Linked DNA regions of Homo sapiens. The main gene of each other region encodes a partner of the protein of the gene in region 3 in a complex. Each region holds a gene or a part of one and is shown on either strand. Other genes may lie near its edges. The genes, in order: KL, FGF23 and FGFR3.

Evidence for each region.
Region 1: the proteins of FGFR3 (region 3) and KL are in contact, whole or in part, in a cryo-EM structure (PDB 7YSU), measured with the Homo sapiens proteins. Residues at the interface, in NP_000133.1 of Homo sapiens: Gln286, Leu288, His290, Val291, Val293, Gly299, Thr303, Pro304, Tyr305, Val306, Thr307, Val308, Leu309, Lys310, Glu320, Leu324, Ser325, Leu326, His327, Asn328, Val329, Glu332, Asp333, Thr338, Leu340, Phe347, His349; in NP_004786.2 of Homo sapiens: Ser539, Gln540, Phe541, Thr542, Asp543, Asn545, Val546, Tyr547, Leu548, Trp549, Asp550, Val551, Ser554, Lys555, Arg556, Leu557, Val563, Lys566, Arg568, Tyr571, Val573, Ala576, Pro580.
Region 2: the proteins of FGFR3 (region 3) and FGF23 are in contact, whole or in part, in a cryo-EM structure (PDB 7YSU), measured with the Homo sapiens proteins. Residues at the interface, in NP_000133.1 of Homo sapiens: Glu157, Arg158, Asp160, Lys161, Leu163, Leu164, Ala165, Val166, Pro167, Arg223, Asp244, Leu246, Glu247, Arg248, Ser249, Pro250, Val277, Tyr278, Ser279, Asp280, Ala281, Gln282, Pro283, His284, Ala312, Gly313, Ala314, Thr316, Thr317, Asp318; in NP_065689.1 of Homo sapiens: Ser29, Leu32, Gly33, Ser34, Trp36, Tyr43, Ala45, Ala47, Arg48, Asn49, Ser50, His52, Ile75, Arg76, Ser77, Glu78, Asp79, Ala80, Gly81, Val83, Val84, His117, Gln118, Thr119, Asn122, Gly123, Tyr124, Asp125, Leu158, Ser159.

What each region holds. Positions count from the first base shown.
Region 1 is NC_000013.11:33,047,412-33,051,156, reverse strand, and holds part of KL (klotho precursor), read right to left. Parts: intron 1-3,745. UniProt on the Homo sapiens protein: May have weak glycosidase activity towards glucuronylated steroids. However, it lacks essential active site Glu residues at positions 239 and 872, suggesting it may be inactive as a glycosidase in vivo.
Region 2 is NC_000012.12:4,373,069-4,376,813, reverse strand, and holds part of FGF23 (fibroblast growth factor 23 precursor), read left to right. Parts: intron 1-3,745. UniProt on the Homo sapiens protein: Regulator of phosphate homeostasis. Inhibits renal tubular phosphate transport by reducing SLC34A1 levels. Up-regulates EGR1 expression in the presence of KL. Acts directly on the parathyroid to decrease PTH secretion. Regulator of vitamin-D metabolism.
Region 3 is NC_000004.12:1,791,201-1,794,945, forward strand, and holds the start of FGFR3 (fibroblast growth factor receptor 3 isoform 1 precursor), read left to right. Parts: upstream 1-2,092; 5' UTR 2,093-2,265; intron 2,266-2,582; exon of another isoform or gene 2,583-2,632; 5' UTR 2,633-2,734; coding exon 2,735-2,843; intron 2,844-3,745.

The DNA.
Region 1 (3,745 bases), on a different chromosome or scaffold from region 3:
ATTCATGTAAAACTCCTAATGCAGAGTTTGCAACAGTAGGATCTCCATGAATGCGTATCCCTTCTCTCTCTAGAGGATGAACAAACCAAAAGGAAGAATATTGCAGGTGGAGGAAACAACCCCTGCTAAGGAATTCAGCCCACAGTAGCGATGTGACATACTGATAAAACTTGGGGTTTGGAGTAGAAGAGACTTAGGTTTAGATTCCCTACTCCTCTAACTATGACCGGTGTGAGCCTCACTTACTGCTCTGTACAAGTGGGAATGACATCTATTGTCCCGTAGGGACACTGTGAGGATTAAATGACATAATGCAAGTGAGAGTGTCTTTTAAGTAGTTGATTATTTTACAGAGGAATACACTTGCAGCATTAGAAAGCATTTCAGATATCATTTGGATTAACTGCTCACCTCATGCCAAAACCCTGTTGAAACTTATTTGATTACTCTTTACAGCATCCTAACTTGGTGGTCATCCCAGGCATGGCACCGTCTCTAAGAAATCGCTGCAACCCCATGGACCCCCATACTGTGCTGCATGCCCCTCCTCTGGACACCAAGAGTCTCACACATACTTCTCTAATATCATTTACTGCAGATAATGAGGGGCATCCCTCCCCAGAATGAGCTCCCTGTGGAGTTCCCTCACTCCCTCCCTGGCACACGGAGGCCCTCATTGTCTGTTAAACTGAGTTGAACCAGCTTCACCACCTCTTCACGAGCCAGTTCACTCCCTTTGCGGATGGTACATTTGACAGATTAAATATTATGAGGCAGAGTGTGGGAAGGTCGCTATTTAGGATGTTGCAACAAATAAGGATGATTAACAGGGAGATGGTTACATATAGTCTTGCAATGCTTTCTAATTATTCCTGGTATGTTAATCTTATAGGCTTGTTGTCTTAAGATTGGGATTTAATAAAGTTATTGACAAGGACTCAGTGAAGTTATTAACTGTATGGCCAAGAACATTCATCTAAATACTATTTTTAATAGCCAAACATTGAAAACAATTGAAATGTCTAATATTCAAATATGTTTACCATGTATGAATGTTTTAATACATGATAGTATAACTAAAGAAATACCATTATTCAGGATAATGCAAAAGAATATCAATTAACATGTAAAAACGTTTCTAAAATACTCTGAACAGAAAAAGGTTATAAAATAGCAAGTAGAGTTTAGTAGCACTTTGATCTGGAGGGATTTATAACTTGTTAAAACCTGTTTTACAGCAGGATTGTGGGTGGTATAATTCACTTCATTTTACCCATCTATATATTTTTTTCATTTCCTACCATAAACATGTATTGCTCTAGAGATTAAAAAAATAAAATTCAAAAAGGGAAAATGGCTGATAGCAGTTGGATGGCAGGCCTGTTTGATGGTTATTAAAAGTCTCTGCTTCATCTCACCCTGCCCACCTGTTCTCCAACTTGCCCTATGGTCTCTGCCTGAAATCCAAGTCCCAGGCACATTGAACCCCACTTGAAGTTCTAAGATTATCTAGCCTTCCATGCTTTGGAGGTGCAGCTCTCTAAGGTATGTTTTGCCTATTCCCAGTTCCTTCACTCTTACACCCACTTTAAAACTCAGCTTAGATGTCGCCACCTCCAGGAAGCATTCCTTGACATCTTCCCTCTCCCTAGCATGGACTAAATGTCTGTTCTATGTGTTTCTATGATGGTCCTCTATCCAAGACCTTAACCATATATTATTGCATTTATTTAAGTGTCTGGATTGTAGGTGTTTTGAAGGCATTGAGTCTTTTATCTCTCAGATTCTAGCAAAGTCTCTGCAACAGAGCCAGTATTCAATAAACAGATCTAGAGGAATGAAGGCTGGCACTAAGAACCAGATCAAAGGGTCTAGGACAGAAGCAACATTTTTCTGGGCTGAAGCAGGAAAACTCTCTCATAAGCTACTCTGGTTCTTATTTTGCTTTCAAGATCATGAAAGACAGAAAACTTTCAGGCACATACCATTAAAAAATAAATTAGAAGGAATTTTATATGGCAGGCCTCTGAGAATAATACCATATTATCTCATAATGTGCTAATGATCCACTTTGGGGTATAAGTCTCTCTCGTATGTGATGCCCTCCTTGCTTCCTTCTTACCTTCCATCTAGATTTTGAAACATGGAGTCTGAAAAAAATCTAGAAGAAAAATGGATCTGGAATTCCTTCCTACCAACTAGCTAGTAGCCCCAAATTTTGGAAGTCGAGGAAAATAATTTTGGAAGTCGAGGAAAATACTCTGAATTCCACAGAACATATAGACATTTTCTCTTTGGCTAAATTATAAGCTCCCTGTCATTTGCCTATACGTATCCCCCACAGAACCCAACAAAAAGTTTCACACAAATAAGCTGCTTTTAAATGGTGGGTGGAAGGAAACAGGTGATGAGCCTCAGGTCCACTCCAGCTTTCTGCCTTGGGTTGTGTTCTAGGTATGGCTGAGGCAAATGAAGCCCACACAATACACAGCAGTATTGCTGAGCTGAAAAGGAAGAAAGCAATGATGAGGACTCTGAAGCAGGTCAACGTACTGGAGAGAAGAAATCTACACAAAGGAAGGACCTAGAAGTCTGCATGAGATTTCCCAAGGATCCTTGGCTGTCCATGCACAGGACAAGATTTTGTGAGGCTCAGCAAAGAGAAGCAGCCACAGGTCTGGGAGATGAATACCAAAGGTTGGGTAGGTCTGGAAAATATTGCATTTCAGAATAGCCAGAGTAGAAAAATGCAGCTGAGCACTTCAGGCATCCAGCTGAAACTCAGGAAGGTCATTACCTGAGAAGTAAGAACAAAGCAGGAATAGACCAGCTCTAACAAAGACTAAAGCCACATCAAGTAAATCTGGTAATTTAACTTCTTGGCAGAACTAAATACAACACCCTTTAAAAAGAGACAATATTGACCAGGCTTCCTATAATATCTCATTCATAGCACACAGAGCATAATAAAAATCTACTAGATATGTGAAAAAGCAGGAAAATGAAACCCTTAATTAAGGGGAAAAAAAGAAGTATTCAATATCAACAGAAGCCAAGATGTCCCAGACATTGGGATTAGCAGAGGACTTTAAAATAGCTATTATAAATATTTTTAAGGATTTCAAAGAAAAGATAGATATAATGAACAAATGGAGAATAACAACAGAGAAACAACAACTGAAGAAAACATGAAAATTCTAGAACTGAAAAGCGAAATAAACAAATTTTTGAATGGGATTAACAATATTAATTCTAAATGGAATAATAATAAGAATAAATAATGTAATCCCTAAAACTCACAAAGATATTAAAAGGTTTCTCTAAAAAGCCAATAAAATAAGAAAAATGAATTACCAAAAAATCTGATTTTTCCAAAAGATGCAGAAATAAAAAACAAAAAACACATGGAACAAAAAGAAAACAAATAGCAGGATTGTAAACATAAACCCAAACATATCAATAAATATTCAAATACACATGGACTAAATGTTCCAAGTACAAGACAGATGCTATGAAAGCAGATTTTAGGGGCTGGGTGCAGTGGCTCACGCCTGTAATCCCAGCACTTTGGGAGGCCAAGGCAGGTGGATCACGAGGTCAGGAGTTCAAGACCAGCCTGACCAACATGGTGAAACCCCGTCTCTACTAAAAATACAGGTGCCTGTAATCCCAGCTACTCGGGAGGCTGAGACAGGAGAATTGCTTGAACCCGGGAAGCAGAGATTGCAGTGAGCCAAGATTGTGC
Region 2 (3,745 bases), on a different chromosome or scaffold from region 3:
GATGCGGTGGCTCACGCGTATAATCTCAGCACTTTGGGAGGCCGAGGTGGGAGGATCACTTGAAGTCAGGGGTTCGAGACCAGTCTGGCCAACATGGGGAAACCCTGTCTCTACTAAAAATACAAAAATTAGTGGGGTGTGGTGCCTGCCTGTAGTCACAGCTACTTGGGAGGCTGAGGCAGAAGAATCGCTTGTACCCCAGAGGTGGAGCTTGCAGTGAGCTGAGATCGCACCACTGTGCTCCAGCCTGGGTGACAGAGTGAGACTCCGTCTCAAAAAAAAAACGTTACCCAAAAGAAAGAGGAAAGATTAATGCATGTAGATAAGAAGCACAACTAATTAAATGTCTGGTGAAGGATTTGTAATGACCTCATCAGTGACTGTTAAGCAATGTTTTTACACTGATGGAAACCTAAAATGTGAGGGGTATTTTTTCCCCTCCTAATTATCCATTTCTATTGAATTCTGGTTTATCTTATTACTTTGCTGTAAGAAATTCTTAAGAGTTGAGTGCACAACCCATCTTTGGGTCACTGGACTTGACAAAATGAAGTTATCTCCTGCCTACCAGATTCTTCAAGCTCCCTTAGGACTCACAAGCGCTGCTGCCAGGTACCCCTCTGGTGTCCTTATCACCCGTTCCATGAACAAGGCCATCCTCTGACTCCCCTTTATCCTTATTATATGGAAACAGCAAGAGAGAGATGCTTATTGTCCCTGGTAATATCATTTCCTAGATCCTGCTATTTTCACTTCCTCCATCTTCCCCATAGGAACTATCTTTATTGAAGCTGAATTACCGCTGAGCTCCTTCAGCCTTTTTCATACGTTTTTCTTTTGAGGTGCTCAAAGCACTTCACTGCTATCATCTTATTTATCACTTACTGGCCACAAGAGTAGAATGGAGTAGATAATTTTCTACTTCTATAAGCAGAGGTTGAAGCAAAGTGGTAATAGTAAAAATTACTAGCACTTAGGAAGTGCTTTCTAAAGGATAAAAACATTATCTCATTATGTCTTCAAGATGACCAAATGAGGTAAATGTTTCTGCTGTCCTCATTTTATATGTGAAAAAACAAGAGTTAAAGAACTTAAATAACTGGCTGAAGGTCAGACAGGTAGTAAAAGACCTAGAGGACACCTTGACCCCAAATCCCAAGCTGTTCCAAGGTCACACGCACGGAGACACCTCCGTCATTGAAGGCAAAGTCCATTAAGCCTGCTCAGCTCCAACAGGCGGGGCTGGTTGCTCCGGCAGTCCATGGTTTGTTCCTTCCTTCTGCAAAATTCTCCCTTGAATCTGTGCAGACTGCGAAAAGATGCCTTTTGAAAGCACAAAGGAAAGAAACTCTGACTCTCTCACATTTTCTAAACTTTCACATTGGCTCACACTGTTTGATGGAAGAGTCTGTGTGCCCTCCGTAGCAGCTTCTCACAGTTCCTCAACCACCGCCGGATGTTTTCTAGGGGGACTGGCTCTGGAAACCAGGAGCGTGTGTGCCATACACACTGCCCACACTGACCCCAAGCATCAAGCCAGCACACCTGTCAAGGCATGGGCCCGGCATAAACAGCAGGTCAGAACACGCCACGTGATGTCCTCTGTTTGCTCGACACTTTCGAGTCACTTTTACCACCATTATCCCCTTCGATCATCACCCTATGAAGTAGGCAGGACAGCCATTGTTCTATTTCACAGCTGAGGAAACTGAGGCTAGTGCAAGGTCAGCAAGTGGCACAATTGGGACCAAAATCCAAGTCCCCTGGTTCTTGGCACCTGGCTCAGTGCCCCTTCCCCGAGCCCTTAGTGCTGCTGTGACTCCTTGTCCTCACTGCCTGCAGCATGTATTTTAGCATTTGATATTGTCTTCTCAGACTCTTAGTGATTTCTGCTGGAGGCTTGTTACCGGGTGGTGGGAAGATGTCTCTGACCTGAGTTTCAATCCTGTCTTAGTTTCCTTATCACTTAAATTAGGATATTGCTGCTACTACTACTACTAATAATAATAATAATCAGTACTAACAATATAAAATTTGTTTTGAGAATTTAAAATATGTAAAGTGCTTAGAGTGCAACCGCTCAAAGACCATTACTAAATGTAATTTTTTCCCAATTAGACTGAAAAGTCACCAGAACAGAAACCATTTCTTTTTTTTTTTTTTTGAGACGGAGTCTCGCTCTGTCGCCCAGGCTGGAGTGCAGTGGTGCAATCTCGGCTTACTGCTAGCTCCGCCTCCCAGGTTCATGCCATTCTCCTGCCTCAGCCTCCCGAGTAGCTGGGACTACAGGTGCCCACCAACACACCTGGCTAATTTTTTTTGTATTTTAGTAGAGAAGAGGTTTCACCGTGTTAGCCAGGATGGTCTTGATCTCCTGACCTCATGATCCACCCGCCTCAGCCTCCCAGAGTGCTGGGATTACAGGCATGAGCCACCGCACCCAGTCGAAACCATTTCTTACACGTTCCTTATATTTCTCCAAAGGTTTACCACAAAACTAGCCATACATTTGAGACACATAGGCAGACACCACTGTGGAGGAATTTAAGCATCCTTTGCGCCTGTCATACCCCAGTCCACTTTCTGGGAAGCTTTCCTCAAGGTTCCCCTCAGCCAAACTTTGAAACAAATTAACTTCTCTCTTTGGCCCTCTTCCTTTCTCACCTTTCTGGGGCTTGTCTCCACCCTCATTCCCTCTGTTCCGCGTCAGTCCAATTTCAGTCCCTATCATGATTTCTACTCAGCTAGTACCTAATTATTGCTGCTTATTTTCCTCAAAGGTCCTTGTATTGAGCCTGCATGGGATAGGAGAAGAGCTTTGGCCTTTAAATCACCCCCACAAGGCTCCATCACTTGCTAGGCACAAACATTGGGCATTTACAACCTCTCCAAGCTACAGTTGCAGAAGAGGAATTAGAATCCCTGCATGGGATTCTAGCTGCCTCCCTGGAGGCTATGAGGTCAGATGAGATGCACCTAGAAATTCTGTGATAGGCAACTGGAAGTAGCCCCAAAGACCTAAAGTAATGATTTTTAACAGAAAATGTCAGGTAATTAAATAACATGTGGGGAAGAAATCTCGCTGAATTATCACGCATGTTACACCAGTATATGATCTAATTGTGCCTTTGCCACAAAACAGTAATTTAAAGCCATTATCAATTACTTAAGAGGTAGGTCGTGTGAATGGGTTTCAGGCCCTTGTCGGAGACTAGTTTTTGAGAGGGGACACTGAAAGTCCATGAGGGGCTGCACCTGGAGAGGTCACCACCAAGTGAGAAAATGACAAAGAACCAACCCAAGAAGAGCCAAGAAGAAAATTCCATCCGTCACTTATATTGATTCAACATAAACAGTTATACCCTCTGCTCCTAAGCAGCTCACTCTAAGGAACGCACTGGATAGGTAAACTCAGCTAAAGCAAGTTAAATGGAATACATGCTGTAATAGAGGTGAAGGCATTGTCCTGAGGAGCTGAGAAGGAAGAACAACTGATTTTGAATGGAAAGATGAGGAAAGTCTTCATAGAGATGGTGACGCCTGAGCCTGGTCTTGAAGAGTGAGTGACTTCAATAAGTAGAGAAGGAAGAGGGAGATCAACTCTACTACCATTCTGTACACATACTGGGTGTTGACTGATGTATTAGACAATTACACAGACATCCAGGAGGAGAATCAGACTCTATGGCAAGCTGGATCCTTGAAAGACATCTCAGCATAGATTTAAAAATCACAAAGTAGAAGG
Region 3 (3,745 bases):
GGCTTTCAAGGACAAATGGGAGAGGGGCTGGGGAAGGGACACATGGGGACCAGACCCCTACTGGGCATTTCTGCCAAGGAGAGGATCCTGGTGAGGAAGAAAGCAGAAAGCTATGTGTTCACAGATGCACGGATGCTCCCCTCCCAGAGACCCGTGGCCGTGGGTGCAGAGGGAGTCAGTCCTTCTTGGAGGTACTGGGAAAGGAGCCTACAGCTCCACTGAGCCCTTCTGCCTACAGGAGGGGCCCCACTCAGCAGCTGTTCCCTGAGGGAGACCTGTCCACGCGTGAGCTCCTTCCCACAGTCCCATCCAGTCCCCCAGGGGAAGGGGCAAGACGGTCAGGTCAGGACCCACACGCATGCTGGTGCTTTCAGAACCTGATGACTTAGTTGGTTAAGAGAGCTCACACCTGCAATCCCAGCACTTTGGGAGGCTGAGGCAGGTGGATCAGTTGAGGTCAGGAGTTCAAGACCAGCCTGGCCAACATGGTGAAGCCCCGTCTCTACTAACAATACAAAAATTAGCCGAGTGTGGTGGTGCACACCTGTAATCCTAGCTACTTGGGAGGCTGAGACAGGAGAATCACTTCAATCAGGGAGGCAGAGATTGCTTGAGCTGAGACTGTGCCACTGCACTCCAGCCTGGGTGACAGAGCGAGACTCCCTCTCAAAAAAAAAAAAAAAAAAAAAAAAGAGCAGGGCCAATGTGCTGCTGTGCCTTGGGGAACGGTGTCCTGGGAGCGGACCTGGCTGGCAGTGACCTGGGGCTGTGCACTGGAGGGGGCTGGACAGTGCACTTGGAGGTGGGTGAGCCTGGGCCCCAAGACGGTCTGGGGACATGGGCTTGGCCAGAGCAGGAAATGAGGGTGGCCAAGGACAGGTGCTGAGCCACCGAGTCGGCACAGAGGGGTGGGCATGAGGGCTTCCTGGGAGCAGGGCCCTTCCAAGTCCCTGAGGTCAGCCCAGGGACACCCTGGCCTCTGGGAGATTCATGGTGGGGCTGTGCATGGGCTGGGTGGGGTCAGCAGGCAGCCAGTCACTGAGGGGCTTTCAGCGCCCATTTTCCTGATGAGCACCTCCAGTCCTGGAAGCCACAAGCCAGGCACGCAGCCCACCCGGCCGGCCCTCCCGGCCAGCTCACTGGCTCCCATGGGCCCCGGACCTCCTTGGGCTTTGCCTGAAGGTGGGAGCAGATGGCCTTTTCCTTGTGAGGGTGGACACAGAAGCCAACAGTCATGTGGGGTGAGGGGACCCAGGCACCTCCAGCGTCCCCCGCAGGGCAGCACCTTCCCCTCCTGGGAACCCACCCCTCTTCAGCTGGACTCTGAGCCCACCCCGTGGAGCCCAGAACCTCGGGCCAGCTCAGGCTCTGCCACCAGCTCTCTGTCATCCTCCCTCAGAGCCGGGCTGTGCTCCCCAAGCCAGGGGTATCCAGCCCCCGCTCTTCATCCTAGGCCGGGCAGGCAGCCAGCCCCAGGCCTGTGTCCTCCTTGGGGGGCGGGGGGTAGGGACCCCTCGCGCGGGGCTCTCAGGCGGCTTAGCTGCGTGCGGCCCCAGGTCAGTCAACGCAGCCTCTGCACCTCGCCGGTCAGGTACGCAGGCCGCGCCGGGCTGCCCCAGACCTGCGGCGCACACGGGAGGCTCAGCCTGGAATGCCGTCCTGCCCTCCTCCACCTGAGGAATTGCCGCTCACACCACAGGGTTCAGCTCCGCGGCATCTCGGCGAAGCCTCCTGACATCCCGACCCCCGCCGAGACCTCCCCTCTGAGCTCCTGAGCACAGCCCCAGGGGACCCGAGCTGCGCGCTATGCAAACACAGGCCTGCCCTCGCCCTCGGTGCGCCCCGTGCCCGCCGCCCCCTGGGCCGCCCCGCGGTGCGACTAGGGGCCTAGCCCGCCTGCCCCGGCTCCCACGCCCTCGAGACCGCCGGGCGCCCCCGCCCGGCCACGCCCCCTCGGATGCCCCGCTCCGCCCCGAGGGGGCGTGCCCTGCGCCCCCGCGAGCCGGGCGGGGACCGGGCGGGAGCGGGGCGGGGCCGGGGCGGGGCGCGGACCGTCCCCCACTGGCTGCGGCGCGCGGGGCAGCCCAGGCTCAGTGCGCGGTGGCGGCGGCGTCGCGGGCAGCTGGCGCCGCGCGGTCCTGCTCTGCCGGTCGCACGGACGCACCGGCGGGCCGCCGGCCGGAGGGACGGGGCGGGAGCTGGGCCCGCGGACAGCGAGCCGGAGCGGGAGCCGCGCGTAGCGAGCCGGGCTCCGGCGCTCGCCAGGTCCGTGCTTGGGGCCGGGCAGGCTCGCGGAGGGGTCCAACGGTGCTCGCGGAGGGGTCGGGGCGCGGCTGTCGCGGAACCACAGAGGTCCCTGCAGCGGGCCGGGCCGGGGCGCGGGCTTCCCGCTCCGGAAAGTTTGCCGCCGCCGCCGCCCTGGGAGGGCTTTGCAGCAGCCAGGGAGGGAAGGGGGAGGAGGGAGGGACCGCGGCGGGGAGGAGGCGGCCGGCGCCAGGCGGCCCGGGAGCCCTGGGCGGCGGCGGCGGCGGGCGGGGCGGCTGGGGGTCGGAGGGGTCGGGACGCAGGAGCCGGCCACCGCCGCTTTCGTCCCTGTCCGCCCCTCTAACGAGCTGCCTTCCTCCTCCTGTAGTCTCCCGAGCGGCGCCCGCCTCCCGCCGGTGCCCGCGCCGGGCCGTGGGGGGCAGCATGCCCGCGCGCGCTGCCTGAGGACGCCGCGGCCCCCGCCCCCGCCATGGGCGCCCCTGCCTGCGCCCTCGCGCTCTGCGTGGCCGTGGCCATCGTGGCCGGCGCCTCCTCGGAGTCCTTGGGGACGGAGCAGCGCGTCGTGGGGCGAGCGGCAGGTAAGAAGGGACCCACTAGGCACGGGAGAGGCCGGCCCGTGCGGGCAGAGGCGTTGGGGACGGGAACCGGCCCCGGGTCGGAGGGGCCGCCGGGTGTGAGTGACGCCCCGGGGTTAGAGCCCGGATTCCGCTGCCTCCTTGCCGGAGAGCGCGGCCAGAGCTAGCGCGGCGACTTGTGGTGCGCCCGGAGCCGCAGCTACCCTCCAAGTGCGAGGCCACCACGGGGAGCCAGGCTGGGGGTTGGCGTCCGCAGCCCCGATCCCCTGCGACTCCCTAGCCCTGGCCTGTCGGGAGGGCGCGGGGGGCCCCATTTCCACGATTCCCGCTGTTGTTATTCGGGTTCTGCGCAGACGGAAAGTTCCCATTGTTGGCGTCCCCCTCCCCCGGGCCCCAGTTTGTGGCCAGCTTCGGCCAAGGCGAGAGACCGGACTTCTAAGGGTGGGTGTGCGCGTCAGCGAAGCCCGGCCCCTGCCCGCCCGAAGAGGCAGCAGCCTCCAGCGTCCCCGCTGCCGACCCTGCCCCTGCCTGGGGGCCGAGGGCGCTTCCCCGTGGGTGCGCGCCGAGCTCCAGGCAAGCGAGGGGCGCGTGTCCCAGCGTCGCGGGCCCTAGACTGGGCTGGCGGTCCAGGTCCCGCGGGACGTCGAGGGTCTGAAGGGAGGTCCCAAGGGGCGAGGGGAGGGGAAGGGGCGCCCGGCCGGACCTGCACACGCGCCGCGGTTCCTCGTGGGCCGGGCCGAGAGCTCCGGTGCCGCCGCCGCGTACACCCGCAGCCGGCTCCGGACGGGCGAGGGGGGCGCGCACAGCTCAGCCCGGCGGCCGCGCGGAGGGAGGCCTTGGCCCGGTGAGCTCGCGCCCCACCCGGGCCGAGGCCCGAACAGCCGCTTCTTTGTACCTCGACGCGG